Regions from separate parts of the Homo sapiens genome. Here all the other regions are linked to region 3. Evidence: fine-mapped expression QTL. A gene starts in region 3. Each other region holds a variant in brackets. All regions are shown on one strand. Distances are from middle to middle. Region 1 overlaps CPNE2 (copine 2). Region 2 overlaps CPNE2 (copine 2). Region 3 holds the start of ARL2BP (ARF like GTPase 2 binding protein). Region 4 overlaps RSPRY1 (ring finger and SPRY domain containing 1). Region 5 overlaps PLLP (plasmolipin).

Region 1 (5,000 bases), 120 kb before region 3:
AGTTCAAGACCAGCCTGGCCAACATGGGAAAACCCCATCTCTACTAAAAATACAAAAATTAGCCGAGCATGGCGGTGCACGCCTGTAGTCCCAGCTACTCAGGAGCCTGAGGCAGGAGAATCACTTGAATGTGGGAGGCGGAGGTTGCAGAGCCCAGATTGAGCCACTGCACTCCAGCATGGGTAACAGAGCAAGATTCTGTCTCAAAAAAAAAAAAAAAAGTTATAGGCCGGGCGCGGTGGCTCATGCCTGTAATCCCAGCACTTTGGGAGGCCAAGGTGGGTGGATCACGATGTCAGGAGATTGAGACCACCCTGGCCTCTCACGTGAGGCCTCTCACCCACCCTCTCACGGTCTTTAGTAGAGACCGTCTCAAAAAAAAAAAAAAATTATAAAATAAAATCAAATAAATAAAAAATAAAAGCTCTTGGTCCCCAGGGGCTGGGTCTGAGAGCAGATGGGACTGGGGAGACAGCTAGGTCAGGACAGAGATTCCCAAGTAGGATACCAGGAATCTTAGGTTCTAGTACTGGGTCTGCTACTGCTGCTGTGAGACTTTGGGCAGGTACATCTCTTTCAGGGCCTCAGTTTACCCATCAGTGGGATGGGAACAATAATCCCTGCCTTCCTCCTAGGAGGGCCATAGCAGCTCAGACAGCATATAAAGCTGTGATTTCTGTGCTCATCTCAGAAAAAAATATGTCTAGAGAGGGCCCCAGGCCATAAGCTGGGTGGGTCACAACCCGAGGTGGAGGGGGAGCCATTTGCCAGGTGTATAAGGAGTGGAGTTGCCTGCACTAGAGGGTACAGCCTCCATCAGTGGGGCAGACACACTTTCTCCTTTTCCCAGCAATCACAGAAGTCTTCCTGCAGGAGGCAGTTCAGGAGCTATCCAGGCCAGCTAGGCAGATGCTGAGGAGAGGCACTACCCAAACAGAAGACAGAGGGTTTGCTTGGGGAGTTGAGAGGGGCTGGAGAGCACCTCTTGGGGGACAGCTCTGGGGTGACCGTGCTGAACCCACCCCAGGTCATGTGCTACGACTATGACAATGACGGGGGCCATGACTTCATCGGCGAGTTCCAGACCTCAGTGTCACAGATGTGTGAGGCTCGAGACAGCGTCCCGGTGAGATGGGCACGTGTACTGTAACCCCAAGACCTCAGCAGGGCTGGGGGAAGGGGCACCGGGTCTTGGGTCAGGCAGCCTGGGGCTGAGATCCCCCTTCTGGCTGCATGACCTTGAGCAAGGCATTCAATCTAAGACTCAGTTTCTCCATCTGTCAATGGGGGCAGAGGATTTGGGTGGGGATTGAATGAGATGATGCAGGCGAAGTGCCCAGCATATAGTGAGCAGTCAGGAGCTATCCATTTAAGTCATTCCGTGATGTTGGGCCCTCAGCTGGACAGTTTGGGGGTGCGTTATCTGGGGAGGAGGGAGGCAGATGCTGATCCTGCTACCATTTTTGGGTGTGGACATCCTGGGAGGCTCCCTGGAGGAAGCATGCTGCCCCCATTGTCAAGCCTGTGGAAGGGATTCTAGGGCCAAGGAGGAGGATCTGTTTCCAAAGAAGCCCCGAGGTGAGTGTCTCTTTCTTTTGCGTTGCCCAGCTGGAGTTCGAGTGCATCAACCCCAAGAAGCAGAGGAAGAAGAAGAACTATAAAAACTCGGGCATCATCATCCTGCGATCCTGCAAGGTGAACCAGCGTGGGCAAGCACGAGCCAGGGGCCAGGTTTCAGGCCACACAGAAGGGACAGACAGAGCACTGGATCTGGAGCCAGCGAGGCCTGTGTTCAAATCCCGGCTCTGCCACATCCTGGCCCTATGGCCTTCTGAGCTTCACCTCACCAGGCCTCAGTCTCCTCATCTGTGGAATGGAGATATTAACGAGGCAGAGCATGTCCAGGGTTACTCTTCTCTCACATTCCTGTGTGGAGGCCAGGGAAGGCACGAGCTGACCTTCCAGGGCCTGTCCTGGTGGGAGAATTGTCATTGCGAGTTGCTGCCGCCCACGGTGGGCATGCAAGGGGCAGAGGACATTGGGTGGGGACACCCTGTCCTCTCTGGCATCAGCGTCACTGTGACTCCCATGGTACAGCCGGGGCCACTGAGGCCCAGAAAGGCAATGAAGTTCATGTCAGCAGTGGCCAGGCTGTGGGTGGGGGCCAGAAGACCTGGTGGGCAAATAACTGCTGGATCTGGCAGAACATTAAGGAAGGCAGCCTGGGGCAGGAGAGCAAGAGACCTGGGCTCAGGGCCTGACAGCTCAGGAGTCTGGCCGCTGCTCTCCACCAGCAGGTGGATCCCAGACTCCCACCTTATTTGGAGCCTCGTCTGGCTAGGGTTTACACGAACATTCAGTGGTGTCACGACAAAAAAGCACTCCGTTAAAGGTCAAGATGTCAGGTTGCAGCCTTGTGATGGATGGTCCTTGTTTCTGAAGTTTCCATCATTCACATCACTTTTCACAATTTCTGGCACCTGCCTTACTTATTTTTTTGAATCAGTCTTTCTTCCCTGTATTATTGTTTTTTGTTTTTGTTTTTGAGACAGAGTCTCACTGTGTTGCCCAGGCTGGAGTGCAGTGGCGTGATCTCAGCTCACTGCAACCTCCGCCTTCCAGGTTCAAGGGATTCTCCTGCCTCAGCCTCCCAAATAGCTGGGATTACAGGTGCATGCCACTACGCCTGGCTAATTTTTGTGTTTTTAGTAGAGATGGGGTTTCATTATGT[C/T]GACCAGGCTGGTCTTGAACTCCTGACCTCAAGTGATTTGCCTGCCTTGGCCTCCCAAACTGCTAGGATTACAGGAATGAGCCACTATACCTGGCCTGTTTCTTTTCTCTTTTTTTTTTTTTTTAACTTAAATACATTTATTTAGAAAGAGATTATTAGAACTCTACCAAAATTAAAAGATCTGCCTTCTTTGCCAAAAAGAGACAAAGACCATCAAAACAACTTCTAGAGGAAGGCCTTGAGCTGGAGGCCTGCTCTTTCTCTTTGTTAAAAAGGTAGATTAATAAGGGCCAGGAGAAGGTAAGTACCTAACAGTGACAAATTGAGACACTCTGTGTCAGGTAACTGACACTGGGCCCTGGCACCCTGCCTGGAACCAGCATGTGTCTGTGTATCTGTGGGGTGTGGGGGTCTCTGTGAGTCCCCCACCCATTAGGAACCATTGCACTGAAGGCTTTGTTATAGAGAGATTTGGGTTTTGTTGTAATTAGATCAGGCCCATCAGCTTTTTTTGACCTCCTTGTCCCTACTGAGGTTGCAGGACATAGAGCAACAACTCCCCCATGGGGAGTGTGACCAAGTCAAGGGGACCCACTGACTCATCCGCTTTCTTCCAGATAAACCGAGACTACTCCTTCCTTGACTACATCCTGGGAGGCTGCCAGCTCATGTTCACCGTAAGGCTCTCCCCGCTGGCTCCCTCTGCACCCCCATCCCAGTGAGGGTCCTCCCTGAAGACTTGGGCCACTAGTGCAGCCAGAGGGACTTAGGGTAGACTTCAGGAAGGACTTCCCTGGGGCAAAGAGTGTGTGCGGCCTAGTGAGGAGGGCATAAGTGGGCTGTCTGGTCCTGCTGGGTGTGCCTGAGTTGGGGCTTAACTACAGGTCAGAGCACAGCTGCACAGCTTTCAGTCTGGTGGCTACACTCCTTCTGCGGGTGGAGGAAAACAAATTCCTCCTCACTGGCCACAAGGCCTTCAGCGATCCCTGCCTCCTTCATCTGCAGCCTCCTTCCTCCTTGCTCACTGGGCTCTAACCACACTCTTCCTCTGTTTGCCCAACATGCCAAGCTTTGCTTCATGTTAGAACTTTGCATTTGCTGTTCCTTCTGCATTTGTTGTTCCCTCTGCCTGAAACACTTCCCCAGAACCTTTGCATGGCTGCCTACCTGCCATTTTTCAGGCCTGAGGAGGTAACGGAGGTCACCTTCCAGGGAGCCCTCCCTCCCTCAATGCCTTGCTGCTCCTCTGTCATATCTTCCTATTTTCTTTCTTTTCTTTTCTTTTCTTTTCTTTTTTTTTTTTGAGACAGCGTCTCATTCTGTCACGTGGTCTAGAGTGCAGTGGCACGATCTCAGATCACTGCAGCCTCCACCTTCAGCTCTCAGTTGATCCTCCCACCTCAGCTTCCTGAGTAGCTGGGATTACAGGTGCATGCCATCATGCCCAGCTAATTTTTGCATTTTCTGTAGAGATGGGGTTTTGCTATGTTGCCCAGGCTGGTCTCAAACTCCTGGGCTCAAGCGATCTGCCCACCTTGGCCTCTCAAAGTGCTAGGATTACAGGCATGAGTCACTGGGCCTGGCCCTCACTATTTTCCTATTTTCTGGGCACTTGCCGCCCCGAGATTCATATGCATTTGTCGCTTCTCCCTGATCGTCGCACCCACTGGAATGTGAGTGCTTTTAAGTGTGGGCACTTTGTTTATTTTGCTTCCACTCCAACCCCAGCATATCACACAGTAACTGGCACATAGCAGGTGCTCCATCATTTCTCGTTGGAAGAATGAACTGCCACCTTGCCTGTGGCCTGGAGTCTTTGCCCCACAGACTCTGTGCCACTCATCCTGGCTTTGCTTCCTCACCCCAAGGGAGCCTCAGGCCCAGAAGGGAGGAAGCTGCTGGGGTGCCACGCTCTGCCCACCTCCCCATGTTGTCTCACCGTTCCCCATCACCACCCCTAGATCCTAATGGGAAATGGAGGGCATCACAGGATGCCATGGAGTCAGAGGATTGGCCTTGCTGACTTCTGACCCTGCTGCCCACCACTGCCCCCTCCCCTGCACAGAGGCCAGGCCCTCCTGTTCCTCCTGCACGAGTTTGTTCATTCAGCGAACTCACACTGACTGCCTCCTTTGTGCCGGGCTCTAGGCTGTGTCCCTGCAGCGGTCCCTCAAGGACTAAGACATGCTGCCCCTGACCTGGGGGAGTGACCCTCTAGCCATGTGAGGATTTGGATGGGTGGCCCCTTCTCTCCTACCCCACAGCAACT
Region 2 (5,205 bases), 150 kb before region 3:
GCCAGGCACGGTCCCGATCTGAGAAGCCCTCAGCTCAGGGTCAGGGTGCCCCCAGCCTGATGGAGGTCTCTGTCCCTCTCCCCTCCCCTGAACCTTATTCATAGATGGCACTGGGGCTACCGAATCAGGAGCAAAACACCTTGAGGACCCAGCTCCTTCCCCCTTGCAGAATATGGCCTCAGGGAGTGGAGGTGGGATCTCCCCCAACCCTGCCAGACACGGTGGTGTGGGCTCTGTGGGAGCTGGGATGCCAGGTCACCCTGTGATCTTGGCAGGCAGCATCTAGAAAAGTCCACAATCACACATCTCCCCACCTCCCTGTCCAGAAGGGAGGACATAGGGGTCCCACAGTGCCTGAGGACAGAGCCCAGGTTAGAGGCGCCTCCTGGCTCACATCCCAATGTCTTCTGCCCTCATTGGGCCACTGGACCTCGGCTGTCACTCCCATGGCAGAGTCAAGAAGACTGCTGTTCCATACCCTGGAATATTTCTTTCTTTCTTCCTTTTTTTATTTTTTATTTATTTATTTTTTGAGACAGGATCTTGCTCTGTCACACAGGCCGGAGTGCACTGGTGTGATCTCAGCTCACTGCAACCTCCACCTCCCAGGTTCAGGCGATTCTTGTGCCTTAGCCTCCCAAGTAACTGGGATCACAGGTGCACACCTAGCTAATTTTTGTATTTCTAGTAGAGACGGGGTTTTGCTATGTTGGTTAGGCTGGCCTTGAACTCCTGGCCTCAGGTGATCCACCCACCTCGGTCTCCCAAAGTGCTGGGATTATAGGCATGAGCCACTGTGCCCGACCATGGAACATTTCTTACTTATCTGGCCACACTTGCTCTGAGGTCTGCAATGAGACTGACTAGTGAGATTGTGTCACCATCCCTCCTCACTGCTGCATCTCCTGGTTGTATTTTTCTTGGGGCATTTGCCACTCTTTAAAACCATCTTCTTTACTCATTGGTGCACCAGCTTATCTGCCTCCCTCCCCAAAGGGTGTCAGATCCACAAAAAGGCAAGAGCAAACAGTGTCTGTCTTGTTTAGGGCCATGTCCCAGCACTTAGAACAGTGCCTGGCACATTGTAGGTGCTCAGTAAATCCTTGTGTGAGGAATGACTGCACCTGCCCCTCTTTGCAGCCTCCTGTTAAATGAGTCTGTGATGTTGAGTGATGGATCCTGGGAGAATTACGAGCTTGCCCTCTTGAGTCTCTGGAGGGATCTCTGGCTTACCATACTGAGTGCTGGAAGGAGCATGGCCTTGCTGACAGCTGGATTTCAAACTTGTAGCCTACAGAACTGTGAGAGAATCTAAGCCATCCAGTGTGTGGTGCTCAACTAGCCCATGGCCAACCAGAGTTTGAAACCCAGTAGCTCAGCTCCCAGCATTCACTGCACTCTTACAATACACTTTTCTCAGGTTGGGCATGTCTCTGAAAGACTGATGGGAGAGCCGGGCGTGGTGGCTCACACCTGTAATCCCAGTACTGAGGGAGGCCAAGATAGTCAGACCACTTGAGCCCAGGAGTTCAAGACCAGCCTGGGCAACATGGCAAAAACCCGTCTTTACCAAAATAAAAAATAAACAAAATTAGCTGGGTGTTGTGGTGCATGCCTGTAGTCCCAACTACTTGGGAGACTGAGGTGGGAGGATTGCTTGAGCCCAGGAGGTCGAGGCTGCAGTGAGCCATGATTGTGCCACTGTACTCCAACCTCGGTGAAACAGTGAGACCATGTCTCAAAAAAAAAAAAAAAAAAAGACTTGGGGTCCAACCAAAGGAAAGAGGGATTGCAGGAGTTGTCTGCTGGGAGTTGGGCATATTCCCTCCTGTGTTTTAGAGAGGGGACAGCCAGGGCACATCAGGCAGGCCAGATATCCTCAGCTCCTGATAAGACACAAAAGCCTGCAGGGATACAGTAGAGTTGTAGGGAGAATGGGCTTCTGAACCACACTAGGCATGTCCACACCACAGGGCCTTTACACATGCTGGGGAACAGGTAGAGGAAACAGCGCATGCAAAGGCCCTGTGGTGGGGACATGCCTAGCTTGGTTCAGGAGCCCATTCATTCATTCATTCAAAAATATTCACTGAGTACCTGCTGGGCACCAGCTATGGCTGGGATACAGCCATGAACGAGAGAGACCAATGCCTTGCTCTCCTGGGGCTCCTGGTCTATTAACATCCCAGCTCAAATGTGGCCTCCTCCACACTGCCCTATCACAATCACTTCACCCTGCTTTATTCTCTTTATGACATTTTCCACTCTCTGAGATTTCCTGCCCTTGTCATTTGCTCACCTCTCTGTTCCCCCAACTCCATCCCGAACTCCTATGCCCAGAGCCTGAGTGTGTCTTGATCATGGTTGCCCCTCCAGCACACAGCAAAGTCCCTGGTCCAGAGGAACTGCTTAAGAAACATCTGTTGAACAACCAAATGGATGGCTGCATGGTGAGGGAAGCTCTCCTGGAAGGTGGAGACCCAAAGTCCCAAGTGAAAGAGGGATTACATCTGTGCACAACCCTCTTCAGTGTACCAGCTTTTCACTGCTGCCTTAAGAACATCATGAAGAAAGTAGTGG[G/A]GACAGCTCTAGTTAGCAGCAGCTCCATTTCCTGTATGAAGAAACTGAGGCTAGAGAGGTTAGGACACATGGCCCAGGTTGCATAGGGAATGGGTGACTTTCTCCAGCACACCTCAGTCCCTTGGGTGGGCAGGCAGTGGCAGCAGGTGACGTCCCACCCAGGGGACCTCACATCCTCCACCTCCCCAGCCCCCAGTCTTTCAGTCCTAGGCAAATCCACCTTCTCTCAGACGTACAACTTTCCCCATTCCCTCCTCCATGGGAGTCCCCTGCCCTCTGAGCCTGGCCAGATCCACTCCCAAGGTCCCCTAAGTACTCAGAGTCTCCGGAGAGCCACAGCACTCCGTGCCTATCCCCATGTGGAGCTTCCTGGGAGGCCGGAGGGGAAGGAGCTGAGGCCCAGGAGGGAGGAGTGGCAGGAGAGGACAAAACCCAGTCCCTAGACTCACAGGAAGTACAGTGGAGGCTGCCTCTCAGCCTGCTAGGTCAGCCCCTATAAGTGACACAAACCTTCCAGTGCAGGATGAGCTGAACCTGGGGCCTGGGAGGGTGGGGGTGGGGGTGTCCCAAGGGAAGCCACCTCCCCTAAGAGCCAGAGCTTAGTGATTAAGCGGGCACTACAGAGAATGACCTCCCTCTGAATGTGGTCTGGTGGAAGCTGGGGGTCCCCAGGGGGGCCTCAGGGCCAACCCCTGCTGCAGCCTCCTCGCCATGCTGTCTGCATCTGTATTTATCCCCGTAATGGCCTGGCTGCCTGTTGGAGTGTGGTGTCTTTGGAGCACAGCAGCCGGTGCCGTAGCCTCGGTGCAGAAATGATTTGTGTCAAGGTGCCGCCCCCACCTGGTCAGGAGTGCCAGCCTGCTCCCCGGGGGCTGCCTGTCGCCTGGCAGGAGCTGGTGCAGCAATGGGCATGCGGCAAGGGCCCCAGAGAATAAGGCTTGTGGCTGGACCCTGCCCACCAGAACCAGGATGCAGGATGTTGGGGCAGCCAGGCTGTGGCCAGGGTTCCTGTGTGGCTGGAAAGTGGGGCCAGATAAACTCTAAAGTCTTTTAGCTCTGAGACTCAAAGAACTCATGACTCTGAAATCCCAGAATTCCCAAATTCTGGAATTCTGTGAACCTCTAGTCCCGGGCCTCTACAATTCCAAGATGTTATGGTTCCTCTTCCTCTCACCTTTTCACTCTTCCTCATTTTCAACAAACTTGTGTCGAGCTTCCATTCTGTGCCTCTGGGTGTTGGGAGCAACGAAATGGAAACAGGGTTTGGTTCCATCTTTAAGCTCCAGTGAGGGCGACGCTTCTAAGCCAATGGTTACAGTATGCTGATATTGTAAGTGATTCCCTCTCAAGGACCAGGGAAATAGGAAGGGCTTTGTAGAGGAGTCCCTGGATTATTGGTTTTGGTGTTTTTTGTTTTTTGTTTTACCACATTGAAGTGTAACATGAAATAGAGCAGACATTCTACATGGACCAGTCAATGACTGTTCACAAACCAACATATCTGGGTCACCAGAACCCAGATCAGAAACAGACACGACCAGCACCAAAGCCCCCGGTGTCCCCTTCTTGTCAGTAACACCCGTCCACGTGTCCTACTGCTATCCTGACTTCCAGCAGCATAGATTTGTTTTGTCCATGTTTAAGGGCACCTAAGTGAAATCATATAGGATGACATACTCCTTTCTCTCTGGCCCCCTTCACACAGCACGTGTGAGACCCATCCGTGTTATTGCTACCTGTGTTCTTCCTTCAAGTTGGCTGTATGTGGTCTGCTGTGTGTTCATTCACCAGTTATGTCTCCCTTCTTCCAATCATGGGGGTTTGGGTGGGGAGTTCCAGTTGGGATTATTTGGATTAGCACTGCCATGAACATTCCTGTGTGTATCTTTGGGTGAACATACGTGAGTGTTTTCGTTGGGCACTAATGTTTCTCCTAAGTGGTTGCACCAATTTCCACTCCCTCTGGCAACCTGTGTGTGTTCCAGTTGCTCTGCATTATTGCCAACACATGGTATGGTCAGCTTTTTAAAATTTTGGCCGTCCTGGGGGTGGGGGTGGGTGCATAGTGCTTTTTTTTTTAAGACAGTTTCATTCTGTTGCCCTGGCTGGAGTGCAGTGGCGCGATCTCAGCTTGCTGCAACTTCCACACCCCACCCCCATTCAAGTGATTCTCCTGCCTTAGCCTGCTGAGTAGCTGGGATTACAGGCATCCGCCACCATGTCCGGCTAATTTTTGATTTTTTTTTTTTTTTTTTTTTGAGACGGAGTTTTGCTGTTGCCAGGCTGGAGTGCAGTGGTGCGATCTCGGCTCACTGCAACCTCTGCCTCCTGGATTCAAGCGATTCTCCTGCCTCAGCCTCCCGAATAGCTGGGACTACAGGCGCGTGCACCACGCCCAGCTAATTTTTGTATTTTTAGTAGAGATGGGGTTTCACCATGCTAGCCGGGATGGTCTTGATCTCTTGACCTTGTGATCCACCTGCCTCGGCCTCTCAAAGTGCTGGGATTGCAGGTGTGAGCCACCATGCCCTGCCTAGTTTTTGTGTTTTTAGTGGGGATGGGGTTTCACAATGTTGGCTGGGTCTCGAACTCCTGACCTCAAGTGATCCGCCCACCTCAGCCTCC
Region 3 (5,000 bases):
GTCTTGAAACACTTGCTCTTGGACCCAGCACCATGGTGTGAGAAAACCCAAGAATCCCCTGAATCCTATAGATGGAGAGGAACTGAAACCCCCCAAACCCCGGCCCCAGTTCTCTGGCCAATGTCCACAACTGAGAGCCAAGAGCCAACACTAATTTGCCAGCCATGTGAGTAAACTCCTTGGAGGAAGCTCCTCTAGTCCATTCCAGCTGCCCCCAGCCGACACCAACTGGAATAGAGACTAGCTGGCCCTGCCCAAATTACAGATTAGTGAGCAAAATGGTGGTTTTAAGCCACTAAATTTTCAGGTGGTTTGTAACAGCAATAGATAACCAGAACAGATTAAATCAAGGTGTGTTCCTCCTCCACTCCATCAATGACTTAGGAAGGGTAGGCAAATTCATTTTGTCCAGAAATGTGTGGTATATAGAGAAAGTAGGTCATGAAGAAACTCTCTGAGTTTGCTGTAAGCTGTGTGACCAGGGCTTGACTAAACAACTCAGTCCAGTAATTCAGCAAATCTTTTTAAATGCCTATCTTCCACTTGGTGCTAAACAGAGTAACTCATAATTGATGTCACCTGACCGGGTGCGGTGGCTCACGCCTGTAATCCCAACACTTTGGGAGGCCGAGGCGGGCAGACCACCAGAGGTCAGGAGTTCGAGACCACGCTGGCCAACATGGTGAAGCCCTGTCTCTACTAAAAATACAAAAATTAGCCGGGTGTGGTGGCACGCGCCTGTAATCCCAGCTACTTAGGAGGCTGAGGCAGGAGAATCCCTTAAACCCGGGAGGCAGAGATTGCAGTGAGCCGAGATTGCGCCACTGCACTCCAGCCTGGGCAACAGAGCAAGACTCCCTCTCAAAAAATAAATAGGCCGAGCGCAGTGGCTCACGCCTGTAATCCCAGCACTTTGGGAGGCCAAGGCGGGCGGATCACCTGAGGTCGGGAGTTCAAGACCAGCCTGACCAACATAGAGAAACCCCATCTCTACTAAAAACACAAAAAAATTAGGCATGGTGGCGCATGACTGTAATCCTAGCTACGCGGGAGGCTGAGGCAGGAGAATCGCTTGAAACCGGTAGGCGGAGGTTGTGTTGAGCCGAGATTGCACCATTGCACTCTAGCCCGGGCAGTAAGAGCGAAACTCCATCTCAATAAATAAATAAATTAGTAATAATTTATGTCACCTTGGTCACAGCTGTCACACCCGACTGTGTCTTTGTAACCATCTTTGTTTCAGATCCCACGGATATCTATTTTAAGTCCATTCAAAGATGTCTGCTAGGCCGGTTGTGGTGGCTCACACCTGTAATCCTAGCCCTTTTGGAGGCCAAGGTAGGTGGATCATCTGAGGTCAGGAGTTCGAGACCAGCCTGGCCAACATGGTGAAACCCTGTCTCTACTAAAAATTCAAAAATAGCCGGGCATAGTGGCACGTACTTGTAATCCTAGCTACTCGGGAGGCTGAGGCACGAGAATCGCTTGAACCTGGGAGGCGGAAGTTGTAGCCAGCCGAGATCGTGCCACTGCCCTCCAGCCTGGGCGACAGAGCAAGACTCCGTCTCAAAAAAATAAAAAATGTCTGCTAACCCATTCTGACTGGCCACCTGACCCTCAGTTCATACCTTAAACCCCTCTAGTTCCTCTAGTCATATACCACACTTTGGCCATAAGGTATCATGCAACTAAAGAGACACAATGCTTAGTTGTCCAATCAAGAGAAATCAGCTCAAACGAATCCTTTTTCAAAGTTTGGCAGTTTTGAAGAGGCCTTTTCCTGAAAGGTATCTGATTCCTGATTGCGTGGCTCAAAATAGTTCTTCAATTCTCATCTTGTATAATTAGTCAAGAAACCAATTACTGCCGAGTAATCTTTATGATGCGAAGATTATAACGTAAATTACAGGACATCGACTTCTTGCGATGGGGCTTTCCTTCCACGAGGGGTAGGAACTGTCTTGAAATCAGACGTCAGCATCACCTGGTTCAAGGGATAAGGGACTGGCTCTCCAGCGACTTGGCAACTTACAAGCGCTCTTTAAACACGCCTTAAACTACTTATTTAATCCTCCACACTCAGGGAGGCGCAATTTATTCTCGAGTTGCGAGTGAGGAAATTCTGGCTCGTGGCTTCGATTCCTTCATCCGTACAATGGGGGCGACTTGAGACGGAGTTCCCACACAACGGGTGCTCGCCGAAGCGCCGCATCCCTCCGCACTCCCTTCCGGGACTTCCTCTCCCTGTCTTGCCCCGCCCCGGCATCGGTAACGCTCGCCTGTGATTGGATGCCGGCCGGCCGTGAGGCGGTGGAAGGGGTTGCGGTGGCCATGGTGACAGGAGGCGGGGCGCCGCGCCCCTCCGGCAGTCACCGAGGCCCGGACCTGCGGCGTCGGCGGCGCGCGCAGAGGGCCAGGCGGGCGTAGAGGCCGGACCGACGCGTGGCGGCAGAGGGTATCCAAGGCCGGACCTGGCGCGCAGGCGCTGACCCGACCTGGCAGTGAGCTGGCCGCGGCCTTGGCTGAGAGGCCTTAACCCCGCCGGGCGGCCGCGCCCTGCATGCGAGTTGGGCCGCGGGCGGGGTTGGAGCCTACTCGGGGCGACTGCGATGGACGCCTTAGAAGGAGAGAGCTTTGCGCTGTCTTTGTGAGTAGCTCCTCCAGGGCGCAGGCGACTTGGGGCCGGAGGCAGCGGGCGTTCGCCCCGGGGCCTGACCCTATAAAACAGGTGTCCTTAGGGGCCGGGCCGGGCCGGGCCGGGCAGGGTGGGGGCCGCCAAGGCGCCGTCCCAGCTCCAGGCCTTCCTTTTGTAGAGTACTAAGGCTGCAGGTTTCAGGCCCCGCAGGACAGGAGTGCGAGGCGGGTGTCACCGTTGATCAGCGCCTCCATCACAATCCCCAGCCGCCAACCCTCAGCTGTCAGCAAAGCCTGGAGGGGTTGAGCGCCCGAGGCCCCTCCACCCCTCCCTGGCCCCCGCCTCCCGGACTCCTGACCAAATGACCCCCCCCGGCAGGTGTTTCGCCCGTGCCGGGTTCATGCTCACAAGCAGACAGGTATGGGGTGATAGCTAAGAGCCTGGAGAACAAGTTTTTATTAAAGTGGAGTCATGACATTGAACGTTCATGTCACAAACGTGCCGAGTGTGTTTTCTTCTGTTTGGACTTACTAGATCAGTCAGTCATTCTTAATCGTTGAAGATGGGTGATGGGAAGTTCGTTTTGCTACTCTTTTTTCTCTTGTGCATGTTTGAAAACGTCCATACTAAAAACATTTTTTTAATGCATTATTTGAAATAGCACCTAATCCAGGCATGTTTTTCAGCTCCTCCGCCTCTGATGCAGAATTTGATGCTGTGGTTGGATATTTAGAGGACATTATCATGGGTAAGCTTTTAAGATACTGTTTTTAAGGACTTGCTTGTTTCTTTAAGGACATTGAAATCAATTTGGAGAGTTAATTTTAAAAAGAGAAAACATCAAGCTGCCTGCAATTTTTAATGTAGCACAATGTAATACTTAAGTAAAGGCTTACTGCAGTTTGTCTTAGAAACAAACAGCCCAGTACTCCTGAAAACATCTAATAAGCATAGATTCAGAGGCTGGAAGGGACTGACTCAGGCTAATAGGGCACCAGCAGTGTGGCGTTCTTCGCAAAACTATAGGAAATAATGATCTACTCTATTTCTTATGTAGGGTAAGAGCAATTTCAATTTTAGATAGTTTTGAGTTTTAACATTTTCATGCCATAAAACACATAAAACCAGGCCAGGTGCGGTGGCTAACGCCTGTAATCCCAGCACTTTGGGAGGCCGAGGTGGGCGGATCACGAGGTCAGGAGATCAAGACCATCCTGGCTAACACGGTGAAACCCTGTCTCTACTAAAAATACAAAAAAAATTAGCCGGGCGTGGTAGCGGGCGCCTGTAGTCCCAGCTACTCAGGAGGCTGAGGCAGGAAAATGGCGTGAACCTGGGAGGTGGAGCTTGCAGTGATCCGAGATCGTGCCACTTCACTCCAGCCTGGGCGACAGAGCGAGACTCCGTCTGGAAAAAATAAAAATGAAAATAAACACATAAAACCATAACCATAAGCACACATGGCCATAAAGAAAACAAGGTATTAAGCTTCAGCTGGTTCTGTATTTTCCTAGGTTTTGAGTTCCTACTTGTGGATGTATTTGGGCATCCATGAAACCTGCTAAGTAACAGAGAAGCAGTAACAGTCCCCAGAGGTTTAAGACAAGTATGTAGGAGGGGAAAACTTACATTTGAGAAAATTCTGTTGACTTTAAGTTTTATGAGAATTGAGAAAAGAACACTGTTATTTGGTGTTATTGGCTGTATGGCTTAATCCATTTAGAATGAAAATTACTGACCAAGTTTTTATACCTTCAGGTATAAAGGTTCATGCCCTTAACTCCTGAATATAGATGTTTCATCATTAAGCTCGTTTCCCATGTGGACTTGGGGATTTCTGGGGAATACTGAAGAATCCATTCAGTTCTCTTGCCTATTATACCCTATATGCTATGGGAAAATGAGCCTTCTGTGAGCCTACGGTATTTATCCCAAAGTCTGGGTCCTTTCTGAAACTTTCCTTTTATTTTTAGAAATAATCTATTCAGTTGTTAAAATTCCTTATTCCGGGATGGGTACGGTGGCTCACACCTATAACCCCAACACTTTGGGAGGCCAGCGCAGGTGGATTGCTTGAGTCTAGGAGTTCGAGACCAGCCTAGGCACCATAGGGAGAACCCTGTCTCAATTAAAAAAAAAAAATTCCCTATTCCCTATCATTTATTAAGTGTTCACTATGAACTAATCTATTTACATGAATTCTCATCTAAATTCCACTTCCAATCCTATATGATAACTACCATAAACCATTCTTATTTTCCAGATAAATGTGTTTATATGGGGGTTAGAGAAATTAAGTAACTTACCCAAGGTCACACAATTAGTAAGTAGCTGAGATGCGATTCGAACCCAGACGGGCTAGCCT
Region 4 (5,199 bases), 40 kb before region 3:
TTATCTACCCTCTAAAGCGAATCATACTCTGATCCCCACAGTAATGGCAATGTTGTTACTTCGACTCTGCTGGTTTAGAATGTGTTCTTTTAAAAAGCTATTTCCAGCTGGTCCTTGCATCATACTCCTACCTATATACTTCAGTCACATCCTTTTCAGTACAACCTCCAAATTTTGAAGACAGCCCGAGTGGTTTGGGGGAACCAAGAACATCTGTGGTATCACTTGGCCCAGCCATTGCTGTCTTAATAGTGAAAACGTCTGTTGCCTCTCATTTCCTTTATCCTTTTCTTTCTCCTGTCTTGTTCCATCCCATTCCATTCTTTTCTCTCCCTTCCCTTTGCCTCCTCCCTCTTTATATATATTTTATTACATATGATTATATATATATATATATATATATATATATCTGAAGACTTTCTGTCTCCATTTTTCTCTTTTTCTTCTATGTTTTCCCTGTAGCAGTAATCAAACTGGGAAAATAAAAAGAATTTTGCCATGAATCTGTCTAAAATAATGGAAATAGGCTGGGCACAGTGGCTCACACCTGTAATCCCAGCACTTTGGGAGGCCGAGGTGGGCAGATAGCCTGAGGTCAGGAGTTTGTGGCCAACATGGTGAAACCCCGTCTCTACTAAAAATATAAAAACTGGCTGGGTGTGGTGGCAGCACCTGTAGTCCCAGTTACTCGAGAGGCTGAGGTAGGAGAATTGCTTGAACCCAGGAGGTGGAGGTTGCAGTGAGCTAAGATCATACCACTGCACTCCAGCCTGGGTGATAGAGCGAGACTCCTCAAAAATAAGTAAATAAATAAACAAATAAAATAATGGGAGTAATATTTCTCTTCTAATTCCACTGAATTATAAATTTTGTTTATATTATTCCTGGTCAGTGCTCAAGGTATGAGGAATTAATTGTAACTAGCCAGATGTTGTGTAGAGACTACACACTAGCATAGTCTATTCCTTATGTGGCCTGTTCTCCAGCTGTCAGCCTGTTTTGTTTGTTTGTTTGTTTTTTTACTTTTTGCTACCAGCCCATGTAAGTCTCCTATTTCTAAATCTTTACTTCCTTCCAGAATCTAACCAGATTTTACCAGCTTCTTGAAGAGCTGGTTCTTTCATTAGGTTTTTAATGATAAACATACTTTGTGGGATGAGAATGGCCATCCATGAATTCCTGGAGGGCAGGAACTATTCCTTACTCATCTTTATTCTCCTAGTCCAGCGTGGTACCTGGCACAAGGTCCTTAGTCAGTATTTTCAGGCAAAGATAAATTGGTGCATCTTATTCTGAACTTTGTAATAGACATGTGCAACAAACTGATCATTGTGAAAATACAACTTTTGTGATATCAGTTTTCCTTTCCCAAAACAAAGCCTTGCTTACATAACAGAAACACTTTGCAACAACTTGTATGAATTCTGTCAGTTCTTGAGTGAGCTTCCAATGGGAAACTCTATCCTTTTATTCTCCTTGATATCAAATGGTGCTATCATATTTGTATCATAACTTTTTTTTAACAACAAACGTCTGTAATTATTTTATTTAAAACTTGTTAAATTATCCTATGGGTTTAAAGAAAGGAGTTAATTCATTTTTTTAAAGATTTTTCTCTTTTTAACACCTACCTCTTACACAGAAAGACAACTCTTTTTTTATGATAAAAGGAGCCCTTGAAAAAAAATGCACACATCCTTCTAATGTATTTCTATATAGACAGGAAAAACTATACATGTGGTTTTAAAAAAATCAATGATAACTCCTCTGGTCTATAAGAATATGGTTTGGCAATCAACTTTGTAACAGAATGATAAAAAGAAATTATTGATTGATTGCGAATTCTGTTATCCAAAGCTATCTCTTTGTATTGGAAACCTATAAAAATAACCAAAGATAATTCTTCATTAGAATCCTAATATCTATAAAATCAGACTAGGAAAATTTGAGTAATTAAGTGGTCAAGAATCTTTTATTCATTTTCCTTTTTCTCATTTTCTTTTAGAACTGCCATTGGATGTCCAGAATCCCCTGTAGTTGATAATGTTGGGAATAAGCTCTGCAACTTTCTTTGGCATTCAGTTGTTAAAAACAAATAGGATGCAAATTCCTCAACTCCAGGTTATGAAAACAGTACTTGGAAAACTGAAAACTACCTAAATGATCGTCTTTGGTTGGGCCGTGTTCTTAGCGAGCAGAAGCCTTGGCCAGGGTCTGTTGTTGACTCTCGAAGAGCACATAGCCCACTTCCTAGGGACTGGAGGTGCCGCTACTACCATGGGTAATTCCTGTATCTGCCGAGATGACAGTGGAACAGATGACAGTGTTGACACCCAACAGCAACAGGCCGAGAACAGTGCAGTACCCACTGCTGACACAAGGAGCCAACCACGGGACCCTGTTCGGCCACCAAGGAGGGGCCGAGGACCTCATGAGCCAAGGAGAAAGAAACAAAATGTGGATGGGCTAGTGTTGGACACACTGGCAGTAATACGGACTCTTGTAGATAAGTAAGTATCTGACTCACGGTCACCTCCAGTGGAATGAAAAGTGTTCTGCCCGGAACCATGACTTTAGGACTCCTTCAGTTCCTTTAGGACATACTCGCCAAGCCTTGTGCTCACAGGGCAAAGGAGAATATTTTAATGCTCCGCTGATGGCAGAGTAAATGATAAGATTTGATGT[T/G]TTTGCTTGCTGTCATCTACTTTGTCTGGAAATGTCTAAATGTTTCTGTAGCAGAAAACACGATAAAGCTATGATCTTTATTAGAGAATAGAGTAAATATGGAGTGAGTTTATGTTGCTAGCTACAATAGGAAATGGTTTCATGAAGGCTCACTGTTAATGGTACATGCCTGTCTATTCCACTGACCTCAGATTCAAGGTAAGTTGTTTTACCAAGAACATGGCTACAGGCAACTTCTCTTGGCAACATAAGGACTAAGGTCAAGGAGAGTTTTCATTATCCTTTATTTGATCCTTTATCCCTTATTTGACTATCTTTAATCCATTTAGGAAGCTTGTCAGTTGATACTGCAAGGCACACCTGTACCTGTTTTGTCTTTTCCTCTGCTTTGTCTACCTCTAAATACAAAATCATAGATTGAATAACAGTGAAATTAAAGGGCATCCAAGTAGAAAAAAACATTTAACTTAAGGTTGTATATTTCAGTAGTTAAGAGCACAAAGCTTAGAACCATGATGGGCCTAGCTCAAGTTCTGGCCCAGTGCCTTACTAACTGCATGACATTGGGTAAGTTACTTCTTGAAGCCTCAGATTCCTCATCTGTAAATGGGGGGATAATATTGTTCCCACAAGGATTATCATGAGATAATGTACATAAGGCATTCAGTGTGGAGCTTTGTACTTAACAGTTGCTCAGTAGATGGTAGTATTTTTTAAAAAGTTACTTATGTGTTCTTTTTGCTTCAGGCCCTGCTAGTAAATTTAAGTATATAAACATTTGATAATCGCATTTATAGAAACCCAGTTTCGTTTAGTTCCTCAAAAATTAAGCATAAAACAGAGTGTACCTGTGAATACAAACGAATTTTTAGAGCTGTATTAAACTTTTCCATAAAATACTGGAGCATTTGTTAGTCTTCGAGAAGAATAATTTTTTGGCCAGACACAATGGCTCATACCTGTAATTCCAACACTTTTGAGAGGCTGAGGTAGAAAGATAGCTGGAGGCCAGGAGTTCAAGACCAGCCTAGGCAACATAGGGAGATCCCATCTCTGCAAAAAAAATTTAAAAATTATCCAGGTACAGTGGCACTTGCCTGTGATCCCAGCTACTCAGGATTCTAAGACCGGAGTACTGCTAGAGTCCAGGAGTTTCCAGCTGCAGTGAGCTATGATCACACCACTGCACTCCAGCCTGGGCAATAGAGCAAGACCCTGTCTCAAAAATTAATTAATCAAAAAAAATTTTTTAAATCCCTTGTACCAAATTGTAATAAAAGTTATCCTTCCCAAATAAGGAAGTAAACCACAAACAATGTTAATTTAAGCTCATTGGAAAAATGGGTGCAGAATAGACTTTGAGAGAGAGAGTTTTTTTGTTTTGTTTTGTTTTTAAAGAGACAGGGTCTCACTTTGTCACCCAGGCTGGCGTACAGTGGCGTGATCATGACTCACTGCAGCCTCAGCCTCCTGGACTCAAACCATCCTCCCACCTCAGCCTCCTAAGTAGCTTGGACTACAGGCGTGTGCTACTGCACCTGGCTAATTTTTAAAAAAGTTTTTGTAGAGCCAGGTCTTGCCATGTTGCCCAGGCTGGTCTCAAATACCTGGACTCAAGCGATTGTCGAGCTTCAGCCTCCTTAAGTGCTGGGATTGCAGATGTGAGCCCCCACGCTTGGCCCCTTGCAATATTTTAAAAGAGAGTGACATAGTTATACAAACCTCTTTGTTTTTAACTTTTCTCAACATCGAAATCTGTGTTACTGTATATAAATCTACAACTGCTTCTGACTATTACAGAGTATTCCCTTGTATGCCTGAAAGTATTATATTTTGTTACATTTTCATCTGGTGATGGTCACTTAGGTTACTGCCAAATTTTTGTTCTTACAAACAGCACTGCAGTGAACAGCGCAAATATGCATTGATTTTTGGACCTGTGTAAAAATTTATCTACAACTGTTGGGTATATGCATACTTAATTTTATTATTGCCAGATCATTCTTCAGAAATACTTGCATCAGTCAATTATATTGTTTAAACAGGCAGCACCTAATGAGTACCTGAAATGACCATACTAATTCCCATATCACAAGGTTATTCTCTGGATTAAATGACTTAAGATGATAGTTTTTGGGGCTTTTTTTTTTTCCACACTAAAACAGAGACCCACAATATGTAAACAAATAAGTGGTGAGTTCTTAAGCAGTTAGAATTGTTTAATGGAAAACATCTCATTATTGAAGTTCCCCTGAAGGACTTTTTAAAGATTTCTGGGATCACACCACTGAATTAAGGTGTATAATGCCACTTTGGAGCAATGTCTAGAATGTTAAGTAGTTCCTTAAGTTTGGTTTTGTTTCTTGTAATACCATTTTATGAAGTCTAAGCATGTAGTGGTATTTCCAGAAGAAAACTTCAAAATGAAGATGCGTATATAGGCCCTTGCTTCCATAAGTCCTCAACCGGGATTGTCGTCTCTCTTCCTGGCATTTCTCTGAGGTAAGTATGAAG
Region 5 (5,000 bases), 22 kb after region 3:
GAAGTGGCAGGTGGGGCCTCGAGCTTGGAAGTCAAAAGCTGTGTGGCTGTGTGATGCTGACCGAGTACCTTCCCTGCTCTCCGAGGAAGATTCTGGGTTTTGTTCACTGCTGTATCTTCAGTGCCCAACAGTGCCCGACACATAATATACGCTAAATACACAATGTGCTTAGGAACTAACAATCCTATTTCTTCAACCATGACAGAGACCAGAACCCTGCCCTGCACAGGCACCGTGTATTAAAAGAGGAAGCAGTGGGGCTGGGCGTGGTGGCTTATGCCTGTAATCCTAGCATTTGGGGAGGCCAAGGTGGGAGGATTGCCTGAGCCCAGGCGTTCAAGACCCCATCCTGGGCAATATACAGGGAGCCCATCTCTGCCAAATACTTTAAAAATTAGCCGAGTGTGGTGATGGTGCACCTGTGGTCCCAGCTACTTGGGAGGCTGAGTGGGGAGGATCGCTTGAACCTGGGAGGTTGAGGCTACAGTGAGCCATGACTGTGCCACTGTACTCCAGCCTGAGCAACAGCAAGACCCTGTCTCAAAATAAACGAAAATAAATAAAATTAAAATTAAGTAAAGTTAAAATTAAATTAACAAAATAAATTAATAAGAAGCAGGTGTCCATCTGTGAACTGCCCCTGGCCTTGCCTCCCCCCAACCCAAGTAAGGGGCTCAGCCCAAAGTGGGAGGCCCAGGGAAGGTGTCCCGCTCTCCAGGGCTCAGCACCTGCTCCTCCCCACACTGGGGTGAAGCTCCAGGGATCCACCCCCCAACACACAGCACCCTGCCAGCCTCTGCTGCCCGTCAGCACTCTCACCGCCGCAAGCAGGCCAGGTGAGGGTAGGCAGGTGAGGAAGCCAGGGCGGAGCCACAGGGCCTTGCCCGCTGTCACACACCAAGCTGGGGGCAGAGCCCTTACGAGTGTGGACCCAGGGCAGGATGTCTCAGAACAACACCCTGCCAGAAACAGACACACCTGGAGAGGCCACGAACCCCCAGAGCTGGGGGGAGGCCAGTGTTCTGAAGGAGAACAAACACTTCGGGCAGCACGCCTCCGTCCCTTCTCCAGGTGAGAACTGGGTGCGTCCAAGATAAACAATTATTTTTTCATTTAAAGCCAATTCCTCATGGGCCTCCGCTGCCACTGTGTTGCCAGCTTCCAACTAACTAAAGGAAAGTCAGAAAATGCAATGAACCAAAAATCAAGAAAAGACCAATTCAGGTTTCCACTATCATATGCCTATCAATCACCTGTCCCATGACTCACAGCCTAGGTCACAATAACCACTCAATGCCTTCTCGCTCTGTGCCAGACACATCTCATTGATTCCTCCATCACCAGACCCTCCTCAAATGTTCTATCTGTTATTCCCATCTTCCAAAGGGAATCTCAGGAGGCAATGTGCCTGAGGTCACTGTGGGTAAAGGACAGGGCAGGAGGCCGGGTGCAGTGGCTCACACCTGTAATCCCAGCACTTTGGGAGGCTGAGGCAGGTGGATCACTTGAGCTCAGGAGTTCGAAACCAGCCTGGACAATATGGAAAACCCCATCTCTACCAAAAATATAACATTTAGCTGGGCATAGTAGCATGTGCCTGTGGTCGCAGATACTTGGGAAGCTGAGGTGGAGGATCAATGGAGCCTGGGAAGTCAAGGCTGCAGTGAGTCATGATGGCGCCACTGCACTCCAGCCTAGGTGACAGAGACCCTGTCTCAAAAAATAAATAAAAATTTTAAAAGGATAGGGAAGGACAGGAACCCAGATCCGTGCTTCCTTGGAACCTGCGCTACTATGAGTTATTTAGTGAAGTGTAAAAAATGAGGACACTTCAGCTGGCTCTAGGAGCCAGTCTGGGCTGGGCACCCAGGCTCCCCCCACTGCCCGCCGCCATCCCTGCCCCGCCCTGTGCTGTGCTCCAGCCCCACCCCTGGTTTCCAGATCAGCGAACACAGCGTCCAGATGAAGCCGGTGGATAAGGACTGGGAATTTCTGGCGTTCTTTCTGGCTGTGCTGCCTGGCTCTGTGCCTGCGGAGCTGCCTCGGTTTCTGCCCTAGAACAAGGAAGGTTCGTTCCTGCATTTGAACCAGACAGACTGGTTTCTCCTGGTTCCTGAGCCCCCAGCCCAGTCCCCCAAGAGAGACCCTGCTCGGAACAGGGCACCCAACACAGGCCTCGCTGTGGGCATCTCTCTGGGTTAATATATTTAACAAATGTCTATGGAGAAGGGGCCAAGAAAGATCTCACTGGCAAGGTGATGATAAGCAAAGACCCAGGGAGGTGAGGGAGGGGCAGGGAGGGTGCCACGTGGGTATCTGAGAACAGAACTCTATGCCTTCACCCCTGGGCCCTGCAGGTCTCTCTTGCTTACATGTTCGTCTGTCCCCGTGTTTCTCTGGAGGTGTCTACATGAATATCTAACTGTCTCTCTCCTACACACACAGGCAAACCACATCCTCCCCTCCTTCCCAGCTCTCTGAGGTCCCTGCCATGCCTCCCCAGACAGGTCCTGCAGATAAACAAAGGGAACTGTCTGGAAATCTCAAGGGCACAGGGCCTTTTTTTTTTTTTTTTTTTTTGCTTTTCTGAAAACCTGAATAATTTGGATTAGGAACTTTTTTTTACATATGAAGACTACAGTGTCAAAAACGACCTTTGCATCTTCAAAGAATTTCCAAACAATTGGGTAACGAAGAGATGTTTTTGTTAAAACCACCTGTGGCATCAGAGAGAAGATTC[G/A]TCACAAATGCCCAACCAAGAGGCACTCCTTGCTGCAGTGAAACCCTGTTATTACAGTTTCCCCAGAAGCTGCCAACACTGACAGCCAGACAGGCCAGGTTCCTGCAGGGTGCATGCCCTTCACTGACTCTGAGGGAAGTTTTTCCTCATCTCTTATTGTGGTTTGCAATGTGTTCCCCAAAATATGTTCAAGTTCTAACCCCTAGTACCTGGGAATGTGGCCTTATTTGAAAACAGGCTCTGGCCAGGCGCAGTGGCTCATACCTGTATTCCCAGCACTTTGGGAGCCTGAGGTGCATGATCAGTTAAGGACAGGAGTTTAAGACCAGCTTGGCCAATATGGAGAAACCCATCTCCAGTAAAAATACAAAAATTAGCCGGGCATGGTGGTGGGTGTCTGTAGTCCCAGCTACTCAGGAAGCTGAGGCAGAAGAATCACTTTGAACTCAGGAGGCAGAGGTTGCAGTGAACTGAGATTGCACCACTGCACTCCAGCCTGGGGGACAGAGTGGGACTCTGTCTCAGAAACAAAACAAAACAAAACAAAACAAGGCCTGGCATGGTGGATCATACCTGTAATCCCAGCACTTTGGGAGGCTGAGGCAGGTGGATCACCTAAGGTCAGGAGTTCAAGACCAGCCTGGCCAACGTGGTGAAACCCTGCCTCTACTAAAAATACAAAAAATTAGCCAGGCATGGTGGCATGTGCCTGTAATCCCAGCTACTTGGGAGAGGCAGGAGAATCGCTTGAACCTAGGAGACAGAGGTTGCAGTGAGCCGAGATCGCACCACTGCACTCCAGCCTGGGCAACAAGAGCGAAACTCCGTCTCAAAAAAAAAAAAAAAAGAAAGAAAGAAAGAAAAGAAAAGAAAATAGTGTTTGCAGACATGCTCGAGTTAAGGGGGGTTATACTGGATTGGGGGCATCTCTAATCCAATGACTGGTGTCCTTGCAAGAGAAATGTGGACACAGAGACCACAAGGGGAGACCATCGTGTGAAGACAGAGGCAGAGACGAGAGTGATGCATTTGTAAGCCAAGGCACACCAAGGCTTGCTGGTCACCACCAGAAGCCAGGAGGGGGACATGGGACAGACTCTCCCTCAGAGCCCCAGAAGAAAGCAACCCTGCCAACACTTTGATTTCAGTAACTGAGACAATATATTTCTGCCACCCAGTTTGTGGAACTTTGTTACGGCAGCCCCAGGAAATGAATAGGTTTTTCTCAGCTGCTCTCTGAATCTGTGGATGGGTGTCATGACCTTGTTCACCTGAGTGACACTGGCATTGGTTCTGTTGGAGGGGTGGCCTATCGACTCCTTGAATTCACGCTCTGGCCCTGCCAACTTAACTAGCTGTGTGACCTCAGGCAAGTGGCTTAGCCTCTCTGTGCCCTTGTCTTCATCTTCCTTCATCTTTGAAATGTATCTACCCCCTAGGGTGGTTTTGTTTTGTTTTGTTTTTGAGACAGGGTCTCACTTTGTCACCCAGGCTGGAGTGCAATGGCACTATTGCAGCTCACTGCAGCCTCGAACTCCTGGGCTCAAGTGATCCTCCCACCTCAGCCTCCCAAGTAGCTGGGACTACAGACATGCACCACCACTCCTAGCTATTTTTAATTTTTGTAGAGGTGGGGTCTCCCCATGTTGCCCAGGCTAGTCTAGAACTCCTAGGCTTAACTGATCCTCCTGCCTGGGCCCTAGGGTAGTTTTGAGCAAGGAACTTAGACCAGCAACCAGCATAGGCTTAATATTCAACATGGCCAGGTGTCATGATCACCCTGAGGGGTTAAGAACATGGGTTTTCAAGTCAGGCCCTGGGCCTACTTTCCTGCATTCGCCACGGTGTGTGAGGCTCCTCAGGAGGGTGAGGCCTCACTGAGAGAATGACAGTATCCACATTCAAGCACCAGGCACAGCCCAGGCAGAGATAAGGACCCACGTCAGTGCCAGCCCCACCCACCTGACAGATAAGGCGGTGGTGCTCCCACAGGAGGCCCCAGAAATCCAGCCCAGCCCTCAGATCTCCCTTGGAGCTGCACTCCCTCAGCTCCTCATAGGCTGAGGGGCCTTGGGCAGACCCCTTCACCCCCTGGCACAATGGAAGCAGGGAGGTTTGGCTTGCTGTTCTCTGAGATTTCCCGCAGAGGTCAACACTCCTGAACATGGGCCTCCTCCAGGGGCCCCAAAGGGAGGGGTTTGACCAACCCTATGGACTCTGAGCTGTCATGCAAAGATGGTCACCCCAACTCTTTTCACCC

The links.
Region 1: its variant is fine-mapped to the expression of ARL2BP in whole blood (TOPMed, PIP 0.95).
Region 2: its variant is fine-mapped to the expression of ARL2BP in whole blood (INTERVAL, PIP above 0.99).
Region 4: its variant is fine-mapped to the expression of ARL2BP in whole blood (INTERVAL, PIP above 0.99).
Region 5: its variant is fine-mapped to the expression of ARL2BP in whole blood (TOPMed, PIP above 0.99).

What each region holds. Positions count from the first base shown.
Region 1 is chr16:57,120,066-57,125,065 of GRCh38, forward strand. CPNE2 (copine 2) reads left to right here. Exons shown (of 16, transcript NM_152727.6): 8 at 1,028-1,126; 9 at 1,609-1,695; 10 at 3,349-3,408. Among named protein-coding and RNA genes, the nearest start is that of CPNE2, 30 kb to the left of the region's middle. The variant C/T (reference allele first, on the strand shown) is at 2,732.
Region 2 is chr16:57,094,959-57,100,163 of GRCh38, forward strand. The region is part of intron 1 of CPNE2 (copine 2); the gene reads left to right. Among named protein-coding and RNA genes, the nearest start is that of CPNE2, 5.0 kb to the left of the region's middle. The variant G/A (reference allele first, on the strand shown) is at 2,581.
Region 3 is chr16:57,242,759-57,247,758 of GRCh38, forward strand. It overlaps ARL2BP (ARF like GTPase 2 binding protein), which reads left to right and starts at 2,501. Exons shown (of 6, transcript NM_012106.4): 1 at 2,501-2,647; 2 at 3,322-3,383. The coding sequence starts at 2,610. It overlaps LOC124903697 (a long non-coding RNA gene), which reads right to left. Exons shown (of 2, transcript XR_007065082.1): 2 at 3,057-5,000. RefSeq lists silencers at 2,220-2,599, 2,690-2,899.
Region 4 is chr16:57,202,499-57,207,697 of GRCh38, forward strand. It overlaps RSPRY1 (ring finger and SPRY domain containing 1), which reads left to right. Exons shown (of 15, transcript NM_133368.3): 2 at 2,006-2,510. The coding sequence starts at 2,161. Among named protein-coding and RNA genes, the nearest start is that of RSPRY1, 19 kb to the left of the region's middle. The variant T/G (reference allele first, on the strand shown) is at 2,686.
Region 5 is chr16:57,264,305-57,269,304 of GRCh38, forward strand. The region is part of intron 1 of PLLP (plasmolipin); the gene reads right to left. Among named protein-coding and RNA genes, the nearest start is that of PLLP, 18 kb to the right of the region's middle. The variant G/A (reference allele first, on the strand shown) is at 2,741.